Homo sapiens: one gene and its partners. The protein of the gene in region 4 purifies or fractionates together with the protein of the main gene of each other region. This does not show direct contact. Each region holds a gene or a part of one and is shown on either strand. Other genes may lie near its edges. The genes, in order: RABGGTA, GDI1, GDI2 and RAB1B.

Region 1 (6,835 bases), on a different chromosome or scaffold from region 4:
GAGGCAGCAGGCAGGTCACAGAGCTGGGAGTACTGGGTCAAGGAAATGCCCCAGCCTAACCACTTTTTTGACTGTCCCACCCAGCCCTGCCCCAGACCCCAACTTCTGCCCCACCAATCCTGGGATACCCAGACATGGCTGGGCCGGTTCCTGCCATCTGGGGTCCTCCACTCCACAATCAGGGGAGAATCATCAACCATGAGCAGCAAGATCTCCATCCTGGAGCCCACCTGGCACAAAGGACAAAGACTTCAGCCCCATCAGCACCAGGCCCACAGTCCCACAGTGCTCTTGACAAAAGCTGCAGGACTCACTAAGAGGGGCCGAGAGAAGGAGACAGTCAGACAGGCCTCGTCCCGGCTCACATGCAGGCAGCGCAGTGCATCCTGGGGGTCAGCTGCGGGGAGACAGTGTCAGATTTCTTTAAACCCTCTCCCATTCCTATTAAGCGCTAAACACCCAGCCCCTTTCCTCATTGCTCACCTCGGCCTAGGAGCCAACGGTGATAAAACCAGGCACTCTGGTCATTGGGGTCAGTGAAGAAGGCATTCTGCACCAGCTCCAGCTCTGTGGGGTTCCAGGAGGCATGGGGCTGTGGTCAGGACACTGGTGAGCTCCTGGCCACTCCAACACCCTACCCTCTCCTTGGAGTACTTCCAGCCCCCAGTCTCACTTATATGCTGTCCTTGCACAGGGGCTACGTATGTCAGTTTTATCTTCCCCATCAGACACTTAAGCTTCCTTCAGCCAGGGACTGATTCTTAAGCACCCCTGGAGCCACGCATGAAGTAGGTGCTCAATAAACCTGAGTGACAGGTTCAGGAACAGGGTCAGGCATGGGGGCTGGAAGGGTGGCACTGCAGAGTCCTCCTGAGCATCCCTGACCCTGGTTACCTTTGAGCAGCACATCCTCAGGGAGGCGCCCCTGTGGTCCAGAATCCGGCTGGGGGTGCAGCTGGGGCAAGAGACAGGAGCGGTAATGCCAGGAAGAGTAGTTGGAGAAGTTTCGGGTGATGAGGCTGTCAGTGAAGGCTAGCTCTTCTGCAGGGGGCACGGCTGCCTGTGTGGCCACAAACCGCCGATAGTCCCAGCAGTGAACTGGAGGGGAGAGGTGACAGCATATCTTAGAGGCAGGGCAAGAGGAGCTACCTGGCTGGGACCCCTAGAGTCCCCTCAGGAACCCCTAGAAACACCTCAGTGCACTCCACGGAGGATGCATTTGGCTCCAACATCCCTTTCAGCACCAGCTCAGTGGACCCATCCTGGATATCCCTCCCCATTCTGGGCCTTACTGAGGCCCCAGTACCAGAATGTGGGCAGGTGAGGGCTGTGGGGACAGAATCTGCAGCCACGTACAGTTCCGCTCATCCACCTCCAGGAAACGGGCACAGAGCTCCAGCTCTCGGGTCCAGTTGGGCTCAGGCAGGCGGCCTAGCAGCCAGCATCGGTGGTGCCAGGTACCATAAGACTTGGGGTTCACCCGCAGGCAGCTCTCCAGGAAGCCCAGTTCTGCCTTCACCAGAGCAGCCAACTCTTCAGGAGACCTGTACCCAGAAGGGAAGGGGGGGGTCAGGGCTCTCCTACAGTCAACCTCAGCTCACCCCTCACTTTCTGCACCCAGCCCCCTACTATCCTCCATCTATGCCACTGGCTGCCCCATTTCTCCTCCACCCCTAGACCCAGGCAGTGCAGGCGCAGGGCCAGGGCAGTCTTCTGAGATCCTGAATCCCTACGCACTTCTGAGTCTCCAGCTGCTGGAGCACCTCTCGTCGGCAGTTCCAGAGGGTGGCAAAATCAGGGTTGGCTCCCAGAATCTGGCTTGTCAGTTCCAGCACGGACTCATCCAGCTCACCAGCCTGGCGCTAAGAAGATAGGTGGCAGGGTTAGAGATCATATAATTTTCCCACTACAGGACTAAATAACGTAAACTTAAAACCATCCAATATTCTGTGAATCCCACATTATACAACAGGTACTATGAACCATGCTTTATGGCCTTACAGGTATTCTCTCATTTAATCTTCACAACAGCCTTATGCAGTAGGTGCAATTATTAGCCCCATTTTACAGATGAGCAAACTGAGGCCCAAAGAGATTCAGCAACTTGCCCAAAGTCATACAGTTATAAGTGAGATAACCCAGAATTGGATCTAGGCAGTCTGACTCTAGGGACCAGCTCTTGGCCTCTGCACTATACTAAGGGAGCTACTTGGGGTCGGGGCTACCTCTGAGGGCCCCACCTTCTGGAATACGGCCTGGGTGGCTGACTGGTATAGCTTCAGCTTCTGCTCTCGCTCTAGCCTTTTGGCCTCCGCCTGCTCTTCTGACGTCTTCACCTTCAGGCGTCCGTGCTACAAGGATGAACGGGTTGGAAGAGTGCAGGTTGCCTTGCAGAAGCTGACCTGCAAAAACCCCACACTGTGGAGCCCTAGGTTCATACGGGGCAACCATGGCACTGCCACTGGGGGTGAGGGCGCGGGCCTGCGGAGGTGAAGGGCTGGGCTCAGGGTTCTCACCATGGTGCCGGCTCAGGGTTCAAGACAGGGGAAGGGTCCAGTGGTAGCCCTTGAAGTCTGAGGAGAGAAGTGTCAATCACGTAGCCCCGCCCCTACTAGCTCCGCCCACAGCTGTGTCCGGAAGCAGCAAGCGTGCCTGGGCAGAGACCCCCAGAGTGTAAAGAGGTCCTGGGACAGGCTTTGCACGTTCCACAAGAGGTGAGCACCCGGACTAGGACTTCCATCCGTGTGGCCCTTCCTATAGCCCGATTCGCCCGGGCCAGAGCGCGAGCCGGGGCACCTGGGCGTTGGGGACCACTCTGCTCCCCAAAGGTTGCCGCTACCCGCCCGTCCCACGGCTCCCGGGCACCCCCGCCCCCCGCGGGCGGACCCACCTGCGCTGGGAGGAGGCGCGGGGGACGCGGAGCTGCGGCGCCCGCCACAGAGCCCAGGCGCTGGCTAGAGCGGCGCCACGTCCCGGCTCATCGAAACGCAGCGCACTCTGCAGGCTTGGGGAGGGACTTGCGGCGGAAGAGGCCGGCTCGGAGGCGCGTGCGCGGGGGCTCTGCGCTCGCTGTCCGGAAACGCCTCGTACCTGTTAGCCACCTGGTGTGTACGAGTGCGCACGGGCGACTGTAGCGTGCGTGTGAAATGGGGGGAGGACCATGCCAGTTGGTAACTCAGAGTGCAATGTAGTTAGTGGAAGAGGTTTCTCCAACAGCCGGAAACCCGCACCTTCACTACTCCACTGACCTCACCCTGGCCACACCGACAGCCTTCTAGATGTCAAATCTAACAGGGGGAGTTTCCTGTCATTTTCTCTAACCTCTGAAGCATTTGACGCTACCCATTTCTTTATACTTGACACCCCCATTCTGGCTTCTCCTCCTGCACCTCTGCCTCTCTCTTCTCATCTGTTCACCTCCACCCCTAAATGTTGGTGATCTCCAGGGCCCTTTCCTCACCCCTTTTTCACTTCACCCACTGTTCCTGGGAGAATGTTTAAATGTAAGCCTTCAACTGCTTCGAGTTGGAGCTCCTCAGAGCTGTTTTGGCCCACAAATCTGGCATTACACTTTCTCTGGGTGAGTTCATCCACACTCATTGTTTTAATTACTACCTGTAAATTGATGACACCCAAATTTATATCTCCAGCCCAGATGTCTTGCAAGCTTAAATAACAATAAATAATATACATGCACATACATATTCAAACACCTGTTGGATATCACCTGGTGTCCCAGAGACACCTCAAACTCCAAAAGCCAAAAGGTATAAATTATCTTTCATCCATCCTGTCTAAACATTGGCCTTTATGTTTTCTATTGTAGTGAATGGCACTATTTCCTCCTCACTTCTTAAACTCGCTTAAATACTCTTTCTCTTCCCACTGCCACTAGGAGTTCAAACTCCGAATTTCTTCTCCAGATTGTTGAAAGTCTTTTCAGTGTTCTCCACCTCATCCCTTGTTATCAGTCCATCCTCTGTGCTACTGAATCCATTTTTCTAAAATGCAGATTTGACGTCATATCTGTGCCTAAAAGTGCTGAGTGGCTCCTTTTCAGGATAGAATTGTAATCTCTCAGCTCAGCACATCAGACCTATTGGCATTTGGGCTCTGCCTACTCTCTGGCTGTATATCCTGCCTGACCCTGCCAAAAACTCTTCATGACAGCCTACAGAAATACTTGCAGTTTCCTAAATATGTTAGCCTGTTCCCTCTTGACTCTCCTTTCTCCACACTCCTCCTTTGCCACAGTAATTCCTGTTTATCTTTAAGATTTAACTTTTTGAACTCCACAGTACAAAGAAAAAAAAATGTAACTCAAGTGGCACCTCGAGGAAGTTCTCTAAAATGCCCCAGTCTGATTTGATAGACCTTCATATGTACTTTTAAAGACTGTGATTTTTTTCCCTGTGCCTACTGCAAAGAAGGTTTTCTGGTGGAGCCTTTATGAGGTTCAGGGTGGCTAGTGAGTGTGTGTGTACCACACGTACACGTGTGTGATGTCTTTGCGAATAGTGTGTCCATGTGGCATGTGTGTGTTTATAACTCACACCTGGGTAAGAAGGTAGTGCTTTAAATTTTTTTTTTTTTTTTTTTTGAGACAGGGTCTCACTCTGTTGCCCAGGCAGGAGTGCAGTGGCACGATCTCTGCTTACTGCAACCTCTGCCTCCTGGGTTCAAGCGATTCTCCTGCCTCAGCCTCTGGAGTAGCTGGGACTACAGGCATGCACCACCACACCCGACTGATTTTTGTAGTTTTAGAAGAGACGGGGTTTCACCATGTTGGCCAGGCTGGTCTCAAACTCCTGACTTCAGGTGATCTGCCCACCTTGGCCTCCCAGAGTGCTGGGATTACAGGTGTGAGCCACCATGCCCCGCCAGTGCTTTAAATCTTTATATATCCTTCACACCTCTCTCAGCCCCTGGAAATGTATGTAAAGTGTCCATTATATACTTGTCCTTTCCTAGATCCTATAACAAATTCTCGAAAAGAGACATTTTTCCTATCCCTGTGTATTTGTAGTCCCAGTGAGGAAAGAGTTAAGCCATTTATTGGTTCTCTTTGTGCCAGCCACTGTGATGGGAGTTTTGCATACATAGGAGGGATGTGCACACACACAGAATTACAGGTAGGAGGCAGTAAGCAGAGTGATTAAGAACATGGATCCTGGAGCCAGACTGCCTGGCTACAAATCCTAGCTTTGCCACTTGCTTGTCCCAGTGTGACCTGGGGCAAGTTACTTAACTTCTGTATTGCGTTTCCTCTATGTCTGAATTTCTTCAACAGTAACATAGGAAAAATATTATCTAGCTGCTGCAGTTGAAGTTAATCTGTTGAAGTTAAGCTGAAATAAAAGAATCTATGTAAAGTGCTTAGAATAGTGTCTGTACTAAGTAAGGGCTCAGTATAGTAATAGGAAGCTGAGGCTCAGAAAGATTAAGTAACTTGTTGAGGGCCACCCATGTAATAAGTGGCCAAATGGGACCTGTGTCTAGTCTGGTCCAGCCCTCCCACCTCACCACCAGCCTTCTTTTGTTGGTGGTCACCTCCTTCTCTAGCTTCCTGCTCTGTGCACACTCATAGGCGCAACCAGATACTTGGGAACACAGATGCCCTCAAGTGCAGATTTGCCAGGTACAGCCTTGCATCATAGTCACTAATCACATTGTGATTAGCAATCTTGAAACTGGGAAGGTTGAGTCAAGCAGGCTTAAGAGAGGAAGTGAGTCTCATGAAAAAATCTGCATCAGAGAAGGCAGGGCTTGAGTTTTGGAAAGAGCGGGCAGGAAGGGTATTTCAGGTATGTAATATGACGTGAAGGTGGGGGAGAGAAAGCCAAACTAACTTAGCTGGCTGGCACAGAGAGGCTGAGCCAGGTGCCTTTGGAGATAAGAGCAGTGGAACTGATGATAATAAGCCTCTTGCTTGAAGGCAAAAGGAGTTGTCAGGAGTTATATTTGGCCTCCTATGTGGGATAAGTGGGAACCATGCAGGTGTCTGAGAGCCACAATCTTTTTTTTTTTTTTTTGAGACGGAGTCTCGTTCTGTCACCCACGCTGGAGTAGTGGTGCGGTGTCTGCTCACTGCCAGCTCTGCCTCCCAGGTTCATGCCATTCTCCTGCCTCAGCCTCCTGAGTAGCTGGGACTACAGGCGCCTGCCACCCTGCCCAGCTAATTTTTTGTATTTTTAGTAGAGACGGGGTTTCACCTTGTTAGCCAGGATGGTCTCGATCTCCTGACCTCGTGATCTGCCTGCCTCGGCCTCCCAAAGTGCTAGGATTACAGGCGTGAGCCACCATGTCCGGCTTTTTTTTTTTTTTTTTTTTTGAGACAAATTTTGCTTTTGTTGCCCAGGCTGGAATGATGCAATGGCACCATCTTGGCTCACTGCAACTTGTGCCTCCCGGGTTCAAGCGATTCTCCTGCCTCAGTCTCCCGAGTAGCTGGGATTACAGGCATGCACCACCATGCCCAGCTAATTTTGTATTTTTTGTAGAGACAGGGTTTCTCCTTGTTGGTCAGGCTGGTCTTGAACTCCCGACCTCAGGTGAGCTGCCTGCCTCGGCCTCCCAAAGTGCTGGGATTATAGGCGTGAGCCACCGTGCCCTGAAAGCCACAATCTAAATGATGTTTGAAGAAGAGATTTTTACTGCCCTCTATGTATAGAAAGAAACAAACAGTAATTGAGTATCAACAGAGCCCCAGACATCTTATTTACTGCACTCACTACCTATATGAAATAGGTATTATCCATATTTTACAATGAAGCAACAGGGAATACAGTGGGTTTGCAGAGGTTAGTTTCTTGTCCAAAGTCACACATCTTCGAGA
Region 2 (7,408 bases), on a different chromosome or scaffold from region 4:
GAGTGTGACTGAGAAGCCTCGGGGTGGGATGGGCTTCCAGGAGGGGGCACTGAGGTAAGAGTGTGCAGGCTTGGTGCGTGGGGCTAGTGGGGAGGAGAAGCTGGGGTCGGGGAAGGGTAGTGGGCAGTGCAGGTCCAGGCCGCCTGAGGACTCTGGCGCTCTGTTTGTCTTCCATAGCTCTGGTCTGATGGCACCCAGGGAAGTCCTCACAGGCAACGGTGAGTAGAATCAGGGAGGATGCACGTCCTCATCTAGCCCTTGGGTGGGGGCCACAGAGAGAGCTGGCCTGCAGTTCCTCGGCCTCCTCACTCCCAGGGTGGCCCGCCTGCTTCTCGGGGCAGCTGGCAGTGGAGCAGGGAAATGCTGGCTCCCAGGACCAGCCAGGGACCACCTGACAGAAGACCCTGTCCAGCCAGACCCCACTTGGCAGAGGGGGGCGGCTCTCTGTGCTGGAGGCTGTGGAGCCAGTTTCTGTGCAGGCAGCGTGAATCCTAGAGTTATGGGTTTAATAAGACTGCAGACATTTGGAAAAACAATTCTGGGGACTCATCTATTTGCAATAAAGGACAGTCACTCCCCATGGAAAGGCAGTCGTGAACCTTTCATGGGTGGATGTGGAGTTTTCTGTATTGATATGTATTTTCTTATGTCACATAGGTAGGGCTTGGCATTAGGGAATCGATGACTGAAGCCACAGTTGTCTCTGGGGGAGGCTGGGAATGGGGGTGGGATGAGAAGTAGCTGCTCCTAAGGATCCTCAGTGGAAAGTAAACACACCACTTTCAGATGGTCTAGAAGGTTTCTAAAGCAGACAGTGGGGAGTGTTTCTTTATGCAGGGTGCCTGGTGACCTGAGTCTCTGCTCTCCTTGTTGACCCTCAGATGAGGTCATCGGGCAGGTCCTGAGCACACTCAAGTCCGAAGATGTCCCATACACAGCGGCCCTCACAGCGGTCCGCCCTTCCAGGGTATGTGCCCTTCCAGCAGGGGCTCTGGGGCGTGCAGGGAGAGGCAGTGTGGTGAGTCTGCTTGGAGGTGGGGAGTGTATGCCACAGGTAGGCTGCCCAGGAGGCCCAGCATAGGGGAAGCATGAGGCACAGAACCCCTGTGGTGTGACTATTTGGAGTGGCTGACTCTGGGGGCAGGGCTAGGATGAGCACTCAAGTCCTGCCTCCCCATTCCAGGGGCAGCTTTCCATCTCGTCCTGTGAGGCTTGTGGGTGGCAGACTTGGACACTAAGTCTAAATGACCCTAAGTTTGAGGGACTAGGAATGTCATCAGGGTTTAGGGGGCATCAGGGAAGGCTTCCTGGAGGAAAGGTCTCCTCTGGCTGATGGGACTTTGAGATAGTGGACAGGGTGTCCTGTTGGGAGGGGAAGGAGGGCACGACAATTGGGTTCAAGTGTGACACTCTCCCAGGGCTGCTGAAAGAAGGCTGGTTGGGTGTTTCTGCAGGTGGCCCGTGATGTAGCCGTGGTGGCCGGAGGGCTAGGTCGCCAGCTGCTACAAAAACAGCCAGTATCACCTGTGATCCATCCTCCTGTGAGTTACAATGACACCGCTCCCCGGATCCTGTTCTGGGCCCAAAACTTCTCTGTGGCGTACAAGGACCAGTGGGAGGACCTGACTCCCCTCACCTTTGGGGTGCAGGAACTCAACCTGACTGGCTCCTTCTGGAATGACTCCTTTGCCAGGCAAGGGCACTAGGCTGGGGAGGACTGTGCCACCACAGGTGACCTTCCCATCACTGTGGGTCGCAGGTGGGGCAGGGAGCCAGGGTCAGGTCTGTGTTTTGGGGTGGGGATGGCCATGGTCTGGTTGGGGTCTGGGCAGCGTGAGGATGTAGGAGGTGTCATGGCATGGGGTGCTGTTGGAGGGGGAGTTGCTCAGACTTCTGCCTCCCCATGCTTGCGAGTCTTTGGTTGGGACCTTGGTTGTTAACACCTCAAGGTTACCTGGGAACCTGTCACCTCCCCCTTGAGCAAAACCTCTGGGACTTTGTGTGGGCAAATACCAGGCCAGCTATCTGAGCCATTTATGGGGCAACCATGCCCTTCTGTTTGCTCTCGCCCCCAAAGCCCAGCCCAGGCACCTTAGTGACCCTAAGAGGGAGTAAAAGGAGGGGCAGTGAGCTCAGGGGAACCAGAGGAAGGACCCCCATGCTGGTGGCAAGGGGGACCTGGGTCCTGGCTTCCAGCTCTGTTCCGACCTTGCAATGTGACTGGATCCTCAGTTTTCCTATCTGTCAAGTGGGGACACTGCTTCTTCAGGTGGCTGCAAGGACCCAAGGCAGCTTAGGTAGGAGCAGAGCTGAGGAACTTGTTCCTCTAAGATGCCAAAGGCCCTCCCAGAGCCTCACAGTGCGCCTCTTTCTCTGGCCCCACAGGCTCTCACTGACCTATGAACGACTCTTTGGTACCACAGTGACATTCAAGTGAGTCCTGGGGGTGGTTGAGGTATGGGTGGGCTGGTGTGGCCCCAGCCTCCCCAGCTCACCTGACATCCCTGCCACCTTCCCCAGGTTCATTCTGGCCAACCGCCTCTACCCAGTGTCTGCCCGGCACTGGTTTACCATGGAGCGCCTCGAAGTCCACAGCAATGGCTCCGTCGCCTACTTCAATGCTTCCCAGGTCACAGGGCCCAGCATCTACTCCTTCCACTGCGAGTATGTCAGCAGCCTGAGCAAGAAGGGTAGTCTCCTCGTGGCCCGCACGCAGCCCTCTCCCTGGCAGATGATGCTTCAGGACTTCCAGGTATGGAGCGGGCGTGGCCCAGCTTCAGGTGGGGGAGCCCAGGCTAGTGGTTGAGAGACGAAGAGAGGCTTGGGCTTGGGCATGTAGTTGAGAGTCCTGTCCCTGCGCTGCCCCTGTCCCAGTTCTTGCTGGGCCTCCCAACGGTCCTTTCTGACCCGTGTCTGTGTGTCTGCCAGATCCAGGCTTTCAACGTAATGGGGGAGCAGTTCTCCTACGCCAGCGACTGTGCCAGCTTCTTCTCCCCCGGCATCTGGATGGGGCTGCTCACCTCCCTGTTCATGCTCTTCATCTTCACCTATGGCCTGCACATGATCCTCAGCCTCAAGACCATGGATCGCTTTGATGACCACAAGGGCCCCACTATTTCTTTGACCCAGATTGTGTGACCCTGTGCCAGTGGGGGGGTTGAGGGTGGGACGGTGTCCGTGTTGTTGCTTTCCCACCCTGCAGCGCACTGGACTGAAGAGCTTCCCTCTTCCTACTGCAGCATGAACTGCAAGCTCCCCTCAGCCCATCTTGCTCCCTCTTCAGCCCGCTGAGGAGCTTTCTTGGGCTGCCCCCATCTCTCCCAACAAGGTGTACATATTCTGCGTAGATGCTAGACCAACCAGCTTCCCAGGGTTCGTCGCTGTGAGGCGTAAGGGACATGAATTCTAGGGTCTCCTTTCTCCTTATTTATTCTTGTGGCTACATCATCCCTGGCTGTGGATAGTGCTTTTGTGTAGCAAATGCTCCCTCCTTAAGGTTATAGGGCTCCCTGAGTTTGGGAGTGTGGAAGTACTACTTAACTGTCTGTCCTGCTTGGCTGTCGTTATCGTTTTCTGGTGATGTTGTGCTAACAATAAGAAGTACACGGGTTTATTTCTGTGGCCTGAGAAGGAAGGGACCTCCACGACAGGTGGGCTGGGTGCGATCGCCGGCTGTTTGGCATGTTCCCACCGGGAGTGCCGGGCAGGAGCATGGGGTGCTTGGTTGTTTCCTTCCTAATAAAATAAACGCGGGTCGCCATGCGTTGGGCCTCTTGTCGCTCATTTCTGCGCTGGGCTTTAGGCGCGTGCTCGCCGGAGGGATGCGGGAGGATGGAGCCTGGCGAGGGGGAGGCGAAGAGGCATCCGCGGAGACCGGGAGGGGCTTTAGCAAGCTGGGCCCTAACCGCTCAGGGTAGGGAGGGGCGGTCGGGCCGAGTCCCGGTGCGCTTCGGCGTCTCAGGAGGCCGTCGTGACAATGGCAGCCTTCGCGTCGTGAGGGGGCCGCCCCAGGCTGCCGCAGCGGCGCGCGCCCGGCCGCGGGGCCGCGCCGAGACTCCCGGGGGGGTGGGCGGGGGTGGGGAGGTGGGCGGGCGCGCGCGGGGCGGGGCGGGGCGGGGCGCGGCGGGTGGGGCGGGGCGCGCGCGGCTCCCGCGCACGGATTCTTCCTGGGCCGCAGCACCGGCCGCCGGCCCGCCCCGCCCGCCCCGCCCCGCGCCTCTCTAGACTCTCGGCGAGCAGCGTCGCCCGCGGAGCCGCGCTGGTGCTGTGGCCCGGGCCCTGGCAGCCCTCCCGGGAGGCGAGCCGGGGAGGCGGTGGCCCCTGCCGGTTGCGGCGGGGCGCGGGAAGAGGCGGGACTCTTTGACGCGGCGGAGGGGTCGGGCGACGGCCGACGCGCCGCCATCTTTGGTCCAGTGCGGTGGCGGCGGCGGCGGTGGCGGCGGCGACTGCTGCGGTGAAGGAGGAGGAGGAGCCGAGCGGGCGCTGGCACCGAGGCCTGACCATGGACGAGGAATACGATGTGATCGTGCTGGGGACCGGTCTCACCGTAAGTGCGGCCCCGGCGCCCCTGGCCCTGCGTCGTGCCCTCGCCATCCCCCGCGATGATGCGGCCGCCGGCCCATCCTCTGGTCACTGCCATCTTCTGCGCTCCGCTCCCCGAAAAGCCGGCGCCGTGCCCACCCCGCTGCTCCCCCAGCGACGTCGCCTCTGCTCGTTGCCATGACCCCATCTCCCCGAAGAGGCCCCCTTCCTGGCCGCCTCCTGGGCTACCCGGGTCCGACCCCCGGCGCCCTCCCATCTTCCCTACCCCTGCCCGCTGGACCGGAAAACGCACCCCCACTCGGCCCGATGCCCACGACCCCGCCCACCCATCGCCCCCACCCATCACGGCATCCACCCGTCGCCCGCACCCATTGCCCGCCTAGCGTTGCCTCTCAGCGTCCGTTCCCATCTTGCGCTAATCCCGGTGGGGATGAAGTAGAAGGACCTGGGGTCAGGGGGCCTCGCCAGAGTGGGCCCTCAGCCCGCCTCCTCATCGTCTTCTGGGGCCAGGGGATCCAGGGAATGTTCCAGAAGGAACAGCAGTGGGGGCAGTAAGCACATTCCCGCAACCCCACCTCGGTTGCCCATGGAGACCTCAGGCTGGGTAGCATCTGCAGCCTTTGTCCTTGGGCTAGTGACAGTGACTGGTGAGGGTGTTTATCTTCCCCCTTTCCCCGAAAACCCCGTTGGCCTACTCCCCTCAGAGACTCTTCTTCCTCGGTCCAGGCCCAGATGCCCCTCCTCAGCGGCAGGGGCTCCTGCTATTTGAAGAAAGAGCAGTCCAGGGTGGGGCCTACAATTTCAAGGACTGTGCTAAGCCTTTCTTTTCCTCCCTTTCGAGTGTCCTTTGCAGTCCAGCTGGGTCTTCTCTGTGCCTTATTGTGTTTTATCCGCCTTTTTGTGCGGCTCTGCGTAGGTAGATGCCTCTCGGCGTGTTGGTACTGGAAGGCCATCCTGTGTCTGCTGGATGCCCTGCCTCCCTCAAAGCCTCCGTTATTTCACTCTCCGCCTTGTGAGGGGGACGGGACTCCTTTGCCCAGCAAGGTTGCAATGGAGAGTGTGGTCGGATGAAGCCATCACCCCAATTTTAGGCGAGGCAACTAGCCAGTGGGGATGGTGGGTGGAAGGAGCTGTCCACTGAGGCAGGTTTGGGTGGGGAACAAATCAGGTCTGCTGGTAGGAGCGGAGGCAGGTGGGAGTGCAGCGGATGGTGTCACCCTCCCCCAGGAATGCATCCTGTCGGGCATCATGTCTGTGAACGGGAAGAAGGTGCTGCACATGGACCGGAACCCCTACTACGGGGGCGAGAGCTCCTCCATCACACCCCTGGAGGAGGTGAGGCTGCCCAGGCCCAAGCCTATCCCTGTTAACCTCCCACATAGCGGCACAGGGTGGAAGTAGCTCCCCAGGTGCCTGGAGCAGGAGGAGGTGGTCCCTGAGGTGTCTCTCTCTCTCCCTTCTGCTTACAGCTGTATAAGCGTTTTCAGTTGCTGGAGGGGCCCCCTGAGTCGATGGGCCGAGGCCGAGACTGGAATGTTGACCTGATTCCCAAATTCCTCATGGCTAACGGTGAGGGACAGGAAGGAGGTATTGCAGGTCGGGGGTGATAGGGAAGACCCGAGGACGGTCAGGCTCCAGAGGAGGCACGGCCAGACCAGCTAGAGCCTCTGGAGAGAGCCGTGCTGATGTTGCCCTTGTGCACCCCCACAGGGCAGCTGGTAAAGATGCTACTGTATACAGAGGTGACTCGCTACCTGGACTTCAAGGTGGTGGAGGGCAGCTTTGTCTACAAGGGGGGCAAGATCTACAAAGTGCCGTCCACTGAGACTGAGGCCTTGGCTTCCAGTGAGTGTGGGCCCCCTGAGCCAGAGAAATCATGGGGTGGCAGGGAAGCCAACTGTCTTTGGGATGGGTGGCTGTCCAGAATAAGGCACCCCCTTGTCCAAAGTCACATTTCCCGTGAAGGACCAGAGAGGCCCTTCACTCTGTATTCCCTCTGCCCCATGTCATGCTGCACGGCTGGCTGCCAGGAGGGAGGTCCTCACACAGCAGGGATGTGATGTGGAGGGGAACGGGGCTCCTTTTGAAAGACTTGAGCCTGGCCAGGTGCGGTGGCTCACGCCTGTAATCCCAGCACTTTGGGAGGCCTAGGCGGGTGGATCACGAGGTCAGGAGTTCAAGACCAGCCTGGCCAACATGGTGAAACACCGTCTCATCTCAAAATACGAAAAATTAGCTGGGTGTGGTGGCATGCACCTGTAATCCCAGCTACTCGGGAGGCTGAGGCAAGAGAATGGTTTGCGCCCGGGAGGCGGAGGTTGTGGTGAGCCGAGATCACACCACTGCACTCCAGCCTGGGCGATAGAGGGAGACTCCATCTCAAAAAAAAAAACAAAAACTTGAGCCTTTGGCAGGGCCTCCACTGAATCCCCGAGACATCGCCAAGTGTCTGAGCCAGGAAGGCCCTTAGAGCCCATCCAGGCCAATCCCCTCTTCATCCAGGTGGGGAAACTGAGGCTAAAAAGGGTGGAGAGGTTAACCTAAGATCACAGGACAGCTGGGCTGTGAGTGGGGGTGCCTGCCCTGCTGGGATGGAGAGTTTTGTGCTGCATTGATGCAGAACCTCCTCCCGCCGCGTTCCTTAGATCTGATGGGCATGTTTGAGAAACGGCGCTTCCGCAAGTTCCTGGTGTTTGTGGCAAACTTCGATGAGAATGACCCCAAGACCTTTGAGGGCGTTGACCCCCAGACTACCAGCATGCGTGACGTCTACCGGAAGTTTGATCTGGGCCAGGATGTCATCGATTTCACTGGCCATGCCCTGGCGCTCTACCGCACTGATGAGTGAGGGGAAGCTGGGTGGTGG
Region 3 (3,745 bases), on a different chromosome or scaffold from region 4:
AATATGAATAACAATCTAAATCACCACCCTAGTTCCTTTAACACATCATCTACCTTAGTCTGTCTCCTTCATACTCTGAAGAGTCAGTGTTTATCTGTGGTAAACAACAGCATCTGCCGTGAGGCTCATCACTGTCAGGGGAAAGGGCCTTATATGTAAACACTTTATCATTTCAACTACACAAAAATTATTTACTAAAGCACCTACTCTACCTGACAGTTCACTTACTCCCTTATAACTGCTGCTACAAGCAAAATCATTAAACACTATTTTTTCTGCACAAAGATGATAGGTCTAGTAATGGTACTGTGTCAAGAATAAAACTCGAGGTCTACTCACAGGGAAGCCAGACGACAGGACCTGCTGTGATCCTTCCAGATCAGAAGACACCCACGCTTTCCGCTGCTGAGCATTCTGACTGGCATTGACTCCAGTGCTACCAAAGGAAGCACGGCAGCTGTGACCCTTGCAATCAGGACACACAAACCAACACCGGGCAGTAGTTTCCAGAATTTGGCTTTATTTTGCAGTACAGAAATCATTTGGAGCCATTTTGAGACAGAAGTAGAGGCTCTGTCAAGTCAATACTGCATTGCAGCTTGGTCCACTGAAGAAGCCACGCCTGAGATACAAAAGATGCACTACACTTGACCCGCTTTATGTTCGCTTCCTCTCCCCTTCTCTCTCATCAACTTTATTAGGTTAAAACACCACATACAGGCTTTCTCCAAATGACTCCCTATGTCTGGGGTTTGGTTAGAATTTTATGCCCACATAAACCAAACTTGTGGCTATGCTATTTGGGCCCTGCCATAACATTTGACATAATACAAAATATAAAGTCATAGGGAAAACTTCCGGATGCTGTCCCAAACCGTGGAATATTCAATTTAGAATCTCCTGAACCTCAAGAGGACAGATGACACACAACCTGTATGGATCCAGCTCTTGAGCAGCAGCAGCACATAGCTACACTGATTAAAAGATTAAAAAAACTGTCTCAAGTTGTCTGTGTCGGTATCCCAATGTTTGTTTAACTTCACTAGAAAAAAAAAAAGCCAGTTTGGTTAAATTGAACAGAATGTGGTAACTGCCAATGCTGAATAGCCACTCCATGAAAACAAGTTAATAATTAGAAAGGTGAAGGGGAGTATTTACTGGCACAGCGCTCTTCATTCTCTCCATTTTCATTACAAAAGCAGGCCTTACAATATTGATTTCATTATATGCATTATTTGCCAAATTTTAAATGTGTCCTAATTACATAATAACATGTACTGCTGTTAGTCTTCCCCATAGATGTCATTCTTCTTGCGCTTCATTTCCTCAAAGTCAAACTCTGATCCTGTCATCCTCTTATAGATGTTTTTAATGTCATCACACGTTGTCTCAAAATGAGTGGTGGCATCATATGTGCGGGAAATAAAGATCTGAAAACAAAAATTACGAAGACTTAAGACCATGGAGGGATGTCTTCCAGTGAAACCTGCCCATATCCTTTCACACTTCCATACTCACCTGGCTTTCTGTTCCCAAGTCTTTTGGTACCAGGAGGTCACTGATGCTAACAAATCTGGAGGGAGAGAGAATTCAGTCAGGTGAGCTGGTCCCACACCTGACCATGGCTCTGCCTGAGGTCAACTGAGAGGTACAGATGAATCCCACAGAGCAGCCAGCAGCTACCTGCCTTGCCCTCACATTCGTCCCACCATGGAGCCACAATCAAAGGCCTCAGTTTGCATCTCGGCAGATATAAAAGAACACAACTCACTTCTGTTCAATTGGTTCCAAGAGCTCCAAAGCTGGTCTGATTTCCTTCTCAGGCTCCTTGGTTTCCACAGTTGTACTAACTATAGCAATGTACTTCCCTTGTGCTGCTACATTGTGCGCAAAGGAGATCATGCAGACGTAGATATCTAGAAACAAATGATACCAGCTCACTGCCTCAAGTGTCTCCATCTGGGACCCAACATACTCAGGTATCACCCATATGTCATGAGGTGTGAGTTAAAATTACTCTCAATAGGCAAGATCTTCTACACTTAAGTTCTAAATGGTGACAGAGTTGGATGTAAAGTACACAGATATTTAACAATAGGAATTTCTTTTAACCTACTAGAGATTAAGAATTGAAGTGGTAGCGAACTGCTGAAGTTTGGAATGAGATCTCTTAACAGCTCTGTCATACCTAACTAAAAAACCTGCCAAACCATATTAACTATTCTGGGAGATTCTTCCATTCTGGACCTTGCATTTAGAAAGGTTCTGAATGGCTAAGAAAGGATGTACTTAGTACTGACGTCCTCATTTACTTATTACAGTAATGTAAAACTGCAGAATCCACATAAACCACTTTTGAGTTGGCATAACGATAGAATTCTCGATTAGACTTGGTCTGTATACCACTCATCCAGTTAACTGTGTCATTTCCAGGATAGAAAATCATTTGGATAGGAGAGCATTTAAAGGCCAAAAAAAAAAAACTCTGGGACCTCCTTTATTCTTTTCAGACTTGCAAGGACCCAGGACCCGCCTGGGAACCTTGTGGAAGATTAAGTCCAGTCCCTTTGTTCTACAGATCATCTTTTGTGATTGGTTTTTTTTTGTGTTTTAACAGTCTGGCTCTGTCACCCAGGTTGGAGACAGGGATGCAATCACAGCTTACAGTAACCTCAAACTCCTGAGCTCAAGTGATCCTCTCCCACCGCAGCCTCCCAAGTAGCTAGGACTACAGGTGTGTGCCACCACACCTAGCCATTTTTGTTTGTTTGTTTTTTGTTTTTGTAGAGACGAGCTCTCACTATGTTACCCAGGCTGGTCTTGAACCCCTGGCCTCAAGCAAGCCTCCTGCCTTGGCCTCCCATGATTTCATTTCTTATATGGGGGAAAAAAAATCATTATACAGATAGCTCTTACCTGTCCCATAAAGCCTGATTACCCTTTTTAAGCTGAATTTTAGATAAATAAAAAGATTTGGGGCTTCTAGTTGAAAGGAAAATGGGAACATCGAAGGGTTACAAACAACTGGCTAAGACAAATAAGTTAGGACTTGCAATTTTAGAGCCATGTCCTGATCACAGAAATGAAAGGTGGACACTGCTAGAATCAAATGTAGGTACTAGGATTACAAATAAGGACACAGAAGCAGCTATGTCATTAGCTCAAGAATATACTCGGGTCAGTTAACTATTAAGCATAAACCTCCACAGGAACCTACTGTTAGTTAGAGCTGGGAGACGCAGGGTTCACCAAGCCCAGTCTGTTCATTCTACAGGTGATGGACACAAGTCCAAGGCTGGCTCCGAGTTGAATCTGTCCGCGTTGACACAATGCTGCCGGAGCAGGAGGAGGTACAAAGATTTTTTTCCCCCATATGTAAACCAAGGTCTGTTCACTAATACAGCATACAAAATTAGGAATTTGGGATAAAACACAAAGCAAATTATATCTTACAAAATTCTACCAACATCTGCTGGTCTTCAAACCTCACCTGACTTTCGATTGACTTGGTTCTGTGGAATAATGATCTGGCAGGAGTTGGCATCATTGGTGTTCTTGATGGGGTGGCTGAGGATGCAAATAACTCTGATCACCTGGCCCACTTTTTCTACCCGATCTTTTACGTAGCTGGGGTCACAGATGAGCTGCTTACAGCGAGCAATCTATAACAAAGCATTTAAGAAGACACTGAAGCGGACAAGGATATAGGGAAACACATCCCATGTTCATAGTTTGGAAGACTTAG
Region 4 (6,387 bases):
TGCACTGTAGCCTGGGTGACAGAGTGAGACCTTATTGCTAAAAAAAAAATAAAAATAAACCAAGGGATGCCTCATGGGGTGGGGGAATCCTGTAATTGTGACTCCAGGATGATGGTAGGTGGGCTCCCTGCCTCCCTTCACGCCTTCCCATCTTCTCTCTCCAGTGACTACCTGTTTAAGCTGCTTTTGATTGGCGACTCAGGCGTGGGCAAGTCATGCCTGCTCCTGCGGTTTGCTGTGAGTAAGAAGCCTCCCATACCATCCACCTGGGGTCCTGACTGGCAGCTGGGGGGAGAAGGGACAACACAGAGCACAGTAGTTGCAAGATCTGGGAACCAGGGGTGAAGCTGTAAGACCTGCCACCAGCACATCTGCCCTGAACAAGACAGGGCTGGCCAGCTGAGTGCTGGGAATTGGGGCTTGGTGGTTCGGAGACCCAGCTGGGGCAGGGAACTGGAGGGAGGCTCTCCAAGTGGGCCTCACCTCATTAACTCCCATGATTTCATTGGCCCCTGAACTTTCAGGATGACACGTACACAGAGAGCTACATCAGCACCATCGGGGTGGACTTCAAGATCCGAACCATCGAGCTGGATGGCAAAACTATCAAACTTCAGATCGTGAGTGTCGCTCTTCCCAAAATCCCCAGTACAGAGGTATCCACCTTGGGAGGGAAGGGACTCTGGGACTCTGGACCTCAGCTGACCTGCTCCTCTGCCTACTGTCTCCTAGTGGGACACAGCGGGCCAGGAACGGTTCCGGACCATCACTTCCAGCTACTACCGGGGGGCTCATGGCATCATCGTGGTGTATGACGTCACTGACCAGGTACTCCTGGACTAGCCATCCTCAGCTTGGCCTCCTTAGCCTTAGGTCTTTGACTCTTCTTTTTCCTCCTTCCATCCTCTCTTTCCTGATGCTTCCTGGAAAGGACACTATTTGTCTGCTTACAGGAACTAACTAGGAAAAAGAAAAAAAATAGGTGACTGTACTTGGACTCATTTCACAAGGAGGGAAACAGCCACAGAAATGGATCCTCTGAAGGCCCTGCTGCAGGTTCTGGCAGGACAAGGCCTCACACCTTCCCTCCCCACCAAGCCAAACTTGCCACCTTATTGTAGACCTTCTGGGCACCTTTGTGTTGTGGGAGTTTAGTCAGGCGGTTGGCTGCTATGCTGGGCCTGTGGCTTCCTGTGTGAAGACACAGTGCAGGGGGACAATTAGAGGGCCTTAGACAAAGAAGCAGGGAAGCTTGAGCTCTGGGCCCAATGTGAGCAGAGATCCAGAAGCTCTGCCTCCAGCAGCAGCGTTAGTCCCATGTGACTAGCAGTGGTGGTAGCAAGGGCTGGAAATGGTTCCATGAAACCTTATAGTTTACAGAACCTGGCCCAGCCCTCAGATTGCCTCTGATGCTCAGAAGAGGTCTGTGTTCCCATCGCACAGGTAAGGAGCTGGGCTCAGGATGGTGAGGTGACTTGCCGAGGGTCCTTCAGCTAGTCCGGTGGCAGAGGCAGAAAGCCTGGATGGCTCATTCCACCTGCTTTGTTTTTTCTACCAAATGTTGTTGCTTAACAGGGCCAATCCCTGAAGATAAGGAGAAGCTTAAATCAGCCGTGGGCCGGGAAGAGTCCCTGTCTGAGGAGCAGCCGGGCTCTTTAGCTCACCAGGGACTCATGATGTCCCCAGCTCTGGACGAGCTGTGGGGAAGCTACATACCACCCAGACAAGTTACCAGGGCCCACCTGACTGCCATATATCCAGTGATCTTATTTCAGCACATTGACCTCTCGTGGCTTTGGACACTGCTCTCTTCTCTCTCCTTGAAAAGTGGACCATCCCCCGCTCCTCAGTCTCCTGCAGCACTCGATTCTCTATTGTCAGTGTCTATTTGCTGGTCTGTCCAGTGCTGCCTCCCATCACCCTGTGTTTGGTGCTTCCCCACTGCCCTGGACTCTCCTCCTTACTCTTGTGCATGGCTGCGGCCACTCTGTGGTTTGCTTCTGCCTTGTGTTCTGTGATTCCTGCATCTAACAGCCGTGGCTGTGGCTTCCCTCCTCTGTCCATGTCTACACTGGCACTTTGTGTCTGTATTAATCCTGATCTTCATGATCTTCTCTAGTAAACTAAATGGTGAGGTTTGTGTTTTCTAGATGAGGAAACTTGCTTGGAGAGGTGTTAAGTAACTTGCCACCGGTCTCACGGGAAGGGCAAAGCCAGTTTTGGAGGGCTCTTGGCTTTTGAGCACACCCTTTCCCACCCTCAAGCAGCCTCTGCAGAACTCAGATGTCCAGCGCTGGCCTCACTGTCTCTCCCCAAACCAGCGCCTCTATCCCCATTTTTAATATTTTTATTTATTTTAAGACATGGGGTCTCACTCTGTCACCCAGACTGCAGTGCAGTGGTGTGATCATAGCTCATTGTAACCTCAACCTCCTGGGCTTAAGGGATCCTCCTGCTTCAGTCTCCTAAGTCACTGGGACTATAGACACACACCACCATGCCCCAGCTGCATCCCCATCTTTGTGACACAATCCTTGTCAGCCTGACCAGAAAACTCTTCCCTCCCCCATCCAGTCAGTCTCGAGTCCCCTCTATTCTCTCCCCATCATCTTTCTGAAATCTGTCCCCTCATAATAATAGCAGTGATGAGGATAATAGCAGCTCTTGCCAATTAAGCACTTGTTATGAGACAAGCCTGTGTTCATTCTCTTCATGCTCACAATCAGCCCTTCTAGGAGGTACTGTTTATAGAAATGAGGAAACTGAGGCTCAGAGTGGTCAGGTAACATACCTGGGGTCACACAGTAAATGGCTGAGCCAGGCCTTCAGCAGCAGTGGTCTGACTAAATCCTGTGTGCTTCCCTGGCTCAGTGCACGTTCTCTTCCCTGAGTTATTCCAGCCATTCCCAGTTGGTCTCTATCTTGCTATTCTGATCTGGGCTCTGCCTCCTGTCAGGACTAGCATAGGTGTGATCCTGTTGCTTCTGGCCTAAGAAACGCCCACTGGCTCCTGGTCTAAGTCCAAGACTTAGCCATGCTAAGACAGTCTGTGCTCTGGCCTCTCCCCAATCCCCCCTCTTTCCTCCCCTCTTCCCCCTCTCCCCTCTTGCCTTTCTCCTCCCCACTCCCCCATTCCCCCTCCCTGTCCCCCCTCCCTGTTGAGTGTCTGCATCCCAGCAACATTCCATTTCCTCCCATTCCCCAGACACACCATGCCCCTCCCGTTCAGTGACCTGGCACATGCTGGCTCCCCAGCTGGCACCTCTCCTGCACAAGGCCAGTTCCCACCTGCAGGCTTAGGTCCACTGTTGCTCCCACCTCAAGCAGAGGTGGTCTGGGGGCTCCCCAGCCCCTGCCTTCTAACCTGTTTTGCCCTTGTGTGTGGCCTGGTCTATTCATCTACTGTCCCGTGAATGTGTTAGGGCAGGGCCCAAGTATGATTTCCCCCTTTGTCCCCAGCACTTAGCACAGGACCCAACTTGGAACATGGCAAGAGGTCTAAGTTTGAGCCAGTGTGATATGACCAGGCTTCTGGCTCCTAAGGAGTATAAGTGGCCCTAGCTTGAGCACTTTCCTGAAAGTCCTGTCCTTTGTGTGTGGGGTAGGGGCGCAAGTGCTGGGAGAGTCTGAAGCCAAGTAATGAGGCTGTTGGTGCCAAAAGTAGGATGAATTTTAGGCTGTTCCCAGGATTCCTGTCTCCCCACAGGCCAGGGCCACCTCTGAGAGGACCCTCGAACTCCTGTGCTCCAAGGCTTCAAACCTTAAAGGGATTTTCAGGCCACGGTGGGAACTGTGGCTCTTGCGGACCCGTTACTCTCTGTTCCTATCTCCCGTCCGCTCTCTCTTTGCTTCTCACATGTGGTTAGGGCCTGCAAGTGTCTCAGGGAGAGAGACAGCTGCAGGGAGCAGAGCTGGCAGGCCCAAGTTGGGGCAGCTGTTGAGGTGTTGGGGCAGCTGGCAGGCTGCTGGGGCTGTTCTGGGTCTCGGATGGAAGAGGGCAGGGAGGAAGGTTCAGCCTGGAGCAGAGGGCTTCCTCTGCATCTCTGCATCGCTGAGCCCAGGACTTAAGGGGCCCGGAGCTGTACTGTTCCCCTCAGAGAAGGTCTTCTCCAGGCCTGGGGTAGGGGTGACAGTTGGGAGCAAAATAACTTTGGCCCCTGGCCCCCTTTAGGAATCCTACGCCAACGTGAAGCAGTGGCTGCAGGAGATTGACCGCTATGCCAGCGAGAACGTCAATAAGCTCCTGGTGGGCAACAAGAGCGACCTCACCACCAAGAAGGTGGTGGACAACACCACAGCCAAGGTAGCAGACGGGCCGGTCTGCCCGGGGTCGGGGCGCTGGGGCCTGCTGCCCCTCACCTGCTCTCCCCTCCTCTTCTCTCCCCTCCTCTTCTCTCCTCTCCCTTGTCAGGAGTTTGCAGACTCTCTGGGCATCCCCTTCTTGGAGACGAGCGCCAAGAATGCCACCAATGTCGAGCAGGCGTTCATGACCATGGCTGCTGAAATCAAAAAGCGGATGGGGCCTGGAGCAGCCTCTGGGGGCGAGCGGCCCAATCTCAAGATCGACAGCACCCCTGTAAAGCCGGCTGGCGGTGGCTGTTGCTAGGAGGGGCACATGGAGTGGGACAGGAGGGGGCACCTTCTCCAGATGATGTCCCTGGAGGGGGCAGGAGGTACCTCCCTCTCCCTCTCCTGGGGCATTTGAGTCTGTGGCTTTGGGGTGTCCTGGGCTCCCCATCTCCTTCTGGCCCATCTGCCTGCTGCCCTGAGCCCCGGTTCTGTCAGGGTCCCTAAGGGAGGACACTCAGGGCCTGTGGCCAGGCAGGGCGGAGGCCTGCTGTGCTGTTGCCTCTAGGTGACTTTCCAAGATGCCCCCCTACACACCTTTCTTTGGAACGAGGGCTCTTCTGTCGGTGTCCCTCCCACCCCCATGTATGCTGCACTGGGTTCTCTCCTTCTTCTTCCTGCTGTCCTGCCCAAGAACTGAGGGTCTCCCCGGCCTCTACTGCCCTGGCTGCAGTCAGTGCCCAGGGCGAGGAATGTGGCCAGGGGATCCAGGACCTGGGATCCAGGGCCCTGGGCTGGACCTCAGGACAGGCATGGAGGCCACAGGGGCCCAGCAGCCCACCCTTTCCTCTCCCCACTGCCTCCTCTCCCTTCCTACACTCCCAGCTCGAGCCGTCCAGCTGCGGTGGGATCTGAGTATATCTAGGGCGGGTGGGCGGGTAGCAGTGCTGGGCCTGTGTCTTGAGCCTGGAGGGAGTCTGCTCCTGCCGCCCTCTGCCCTGCCAGAGACAGACCCATGCGCTGCCTGCCCACCGTGCCCCTTTGTCCCCATGTCAGGCGGAGGCGGAAGGCCCACCGTGCCAGAGGCTGGGCACCAGCCTTAACCCTCACTCTGCTAGCACCTCCTCCCTTTCCCCAAGGTAGCACATCTGGCTCACTCCCCACTCCGTCTCTGGAGCCCACCAGGGAAGGCCCTCATCCCCTGCCGCTACTTCTCTGGGGAATGTGGGTTCCATCCAGGATTGGGGGCCTCTCTGCTCACCCACTCTGCACCCAGGATCCTAGTCCCCTGCCCTCTGGCACAGCTGCTTCCTGCAAGAAAGCAAGTCTTTGGTCTCCCTGAGAAGCCATGTCCCTCGTGCTGTCTCTTGCCTGTCCCACCTGTGCCCTGCCCTCCAGCTTGTATTTAAGTCCCTGGGCTGCCCCCTTGGGGTGCCCCCCGCTCCCAGGTTCCCCTCTGGTGTCATGTCAGGCATTTTGCAAGGAAAAGCCACTTGGGGAAAGATGGAAAAGGACAAAAAAAATTAATAAATTTCCATTGGCCCTCGGGTGAGCTGAGGGTTTTTGCAAGGAAGTTGTGGTGGCCAAGTGTGGTCTGTGGTCTAAGCCCAGCCTTGGGGTGGGGGGATGGAACTGGAACCCTGGGCTTGGTGGGGTGCACGGGGGTCCTGGCTTGGTTTCTGTGTCCTAAGGCTGCTGGCAAAAGCCCTTGACCCCGTTTCCTGAGGCCAGGAAAGCTGCTTGTGCTTCTGTGGTCTGTCCCCAAGGGCCCAGCACCGTTCTGTCAGGGAAAGAGGCAGGCGGCCATCAGCTCATACCTGGCGTGCCGCCGCCAACTCCCGCGGGGCACACGGCAGAGGTGTGGGGTCGCGCAGCCGCTGAGAGGGCCCCCACTGCACCTGGCCCAACCTCCTTCAGCGCCCCCCAAAACCCCACTGCTCCCATTCAGCCCCTGTCCTGGCGTCATTGTGTGTCCCAGCCAGGTGCTTCTGCCGTCTCCGACAGTGACAAGTGCCTCGCACTTCAGCCTTTGCCCTGAGCGCCCGCCCGAGGGGGCCGAGTGCGGCTGTGCCGGTGGCTGGAGTGCCGAGGGGTGCGGGG

The links.
Region 1: the proteins of RAB1B (region 4) and RABGGTA purify together in Homo sapiens (affinity purification with mass spectrometry; 3 studies listed by BioGRID and IntAct, with this or other methods). This does not show direct contact.
Region 2: the proteins of RAB1B (region 4) and GDI1 purify together in Homo sapiens (affinity purification with mass spectrometry; 5 studies listed by BioGRID and IntAct, with this or other methods). This does not show direct contact.
Region 3: the proteins of RAB1B (region 4) and GDI2 purify together in Homo sapiens (affinity purification with mass spectrometry; 5 studies listed by BioGRID and IntAct, with this or other methods). This does not show direct contact.

What each region holds. Positions count from the first base shown.
Region 1 is NC_000014.9:24,268,597-24,275,431, forward strand, and holds the start of RABGGTA (geranylgeranyl transferase type-2 subunit alpha), read right to left. Parts: upstream 3,002-6,835; 5' UTR 2,891-3,001; exon of another isoform or gene 2,574-2,890; 5' UTR 2,520-2,573; coding exon 2,517-2,519; intron 2,352-2,516; coding exon 2,241-2,351; intron 1,863-2,240; coding exon 1,738-1,862; intron 1,545-1,737; coding exon 1,357-1,544; intron 1,099-1,356; coding exon 895-1,098; intron 568-894; coding exon 484-567; intron 398-483; coding exon 315-397; intron 231-314; coding exon 129-230; intron 24-128; coding exon 1-23. UniProt on the Homo sapiens protein: Catalyzes the transfer of a geranylgeranyl moiety from geranylgeranyl diphosphate to both cysteines of Rab proteins with the C-terminal sequence -XXCC, -XCXC and -CCXX, such as RAB1A, RAB3A, RAB5A and RAB7A.
Region 2 is NC_000023.11:154,432,754-154,440,161, forward strand, and holds the start of GDI1 (rab GDP dissociation inhibitor alpha), read left to right. Parts: upstream 1-4,400; 5' UTR 4,401-4,501; coding exon 4,502-4,546; intron 4,547-5,769; coding exon 5,770-5,877; intron 5,878-6,011; coding exon 6,012-6,111; intron 6,112-6,252; coding exon 6,253-6,387; intron 6,388-7,187; coding exon 7,188-7,386; intron 7,387-7,408. Other genes in the region: ATP6AP1 (V-type proton ATPase subunit S1 precursor), read left to right, coding at 178-218, 882-967, 1,455-1,693, 2,386-2,433, 2,521-2,752, 2,929-3,138. UniProt on the Homo sapiens protein: Regulates the GDP/GTP exchange reaction of most Rab proteins by inhibiting the dissociation of GDP from them, and the subsequent binding of GTP to them. Promotes the dissociation of GDP-bound Rab proteins from the membrane and inhibits their activation.
Region 3 is NC_000010.11:5,764,723-5,768,467, forward strand, and holds the end of GDI2 (rab GDP dissociation inhibitor beta), read right to left. Parts: intron 3,663-3,745; coding exon 3,491-3,662; intron 1,917-3,490; coding exon 1,772-1,916; intron 1,574-1,771; coding exon 1,519-1,573; intron 1,431-1,518; coding exon 1,284-1,430; 3' UTR 501-1,283; downstream 1-500. UniProt on the Homo sapiens protein: GDP-dissociation inhibitor preventing the GDP to GTP exchange of most Rab proteins. By keeping these small GTPases in their inactive GDP-bound form regulates intracellular membrane trafficking.
Region 4 is NC_000011.10:66,271,633-66,278,019, forward strand, and holds the end of RAB1B (ras-related protein Rab-1B), read left to right. Parts: intron 1-164; coding exon 165-237; intron 238-524; coding exon 525-620; exon of another isoform or gene 621-732; coding exon 733-828; exon of another isoform or gene 829-960; intron 961-4,171; coding exon 4,172-4,303; intron 4,304-4,411; coding exon 4,412-4,606; 3' UTR 4,607-5,860; downstream 5,861-6,387. UniProt on the Homo sapiens protein: The small GTPases Rab are key regulators of intracellular membrane trafficking, from the formation of transport vesicles to their fusion with membranes.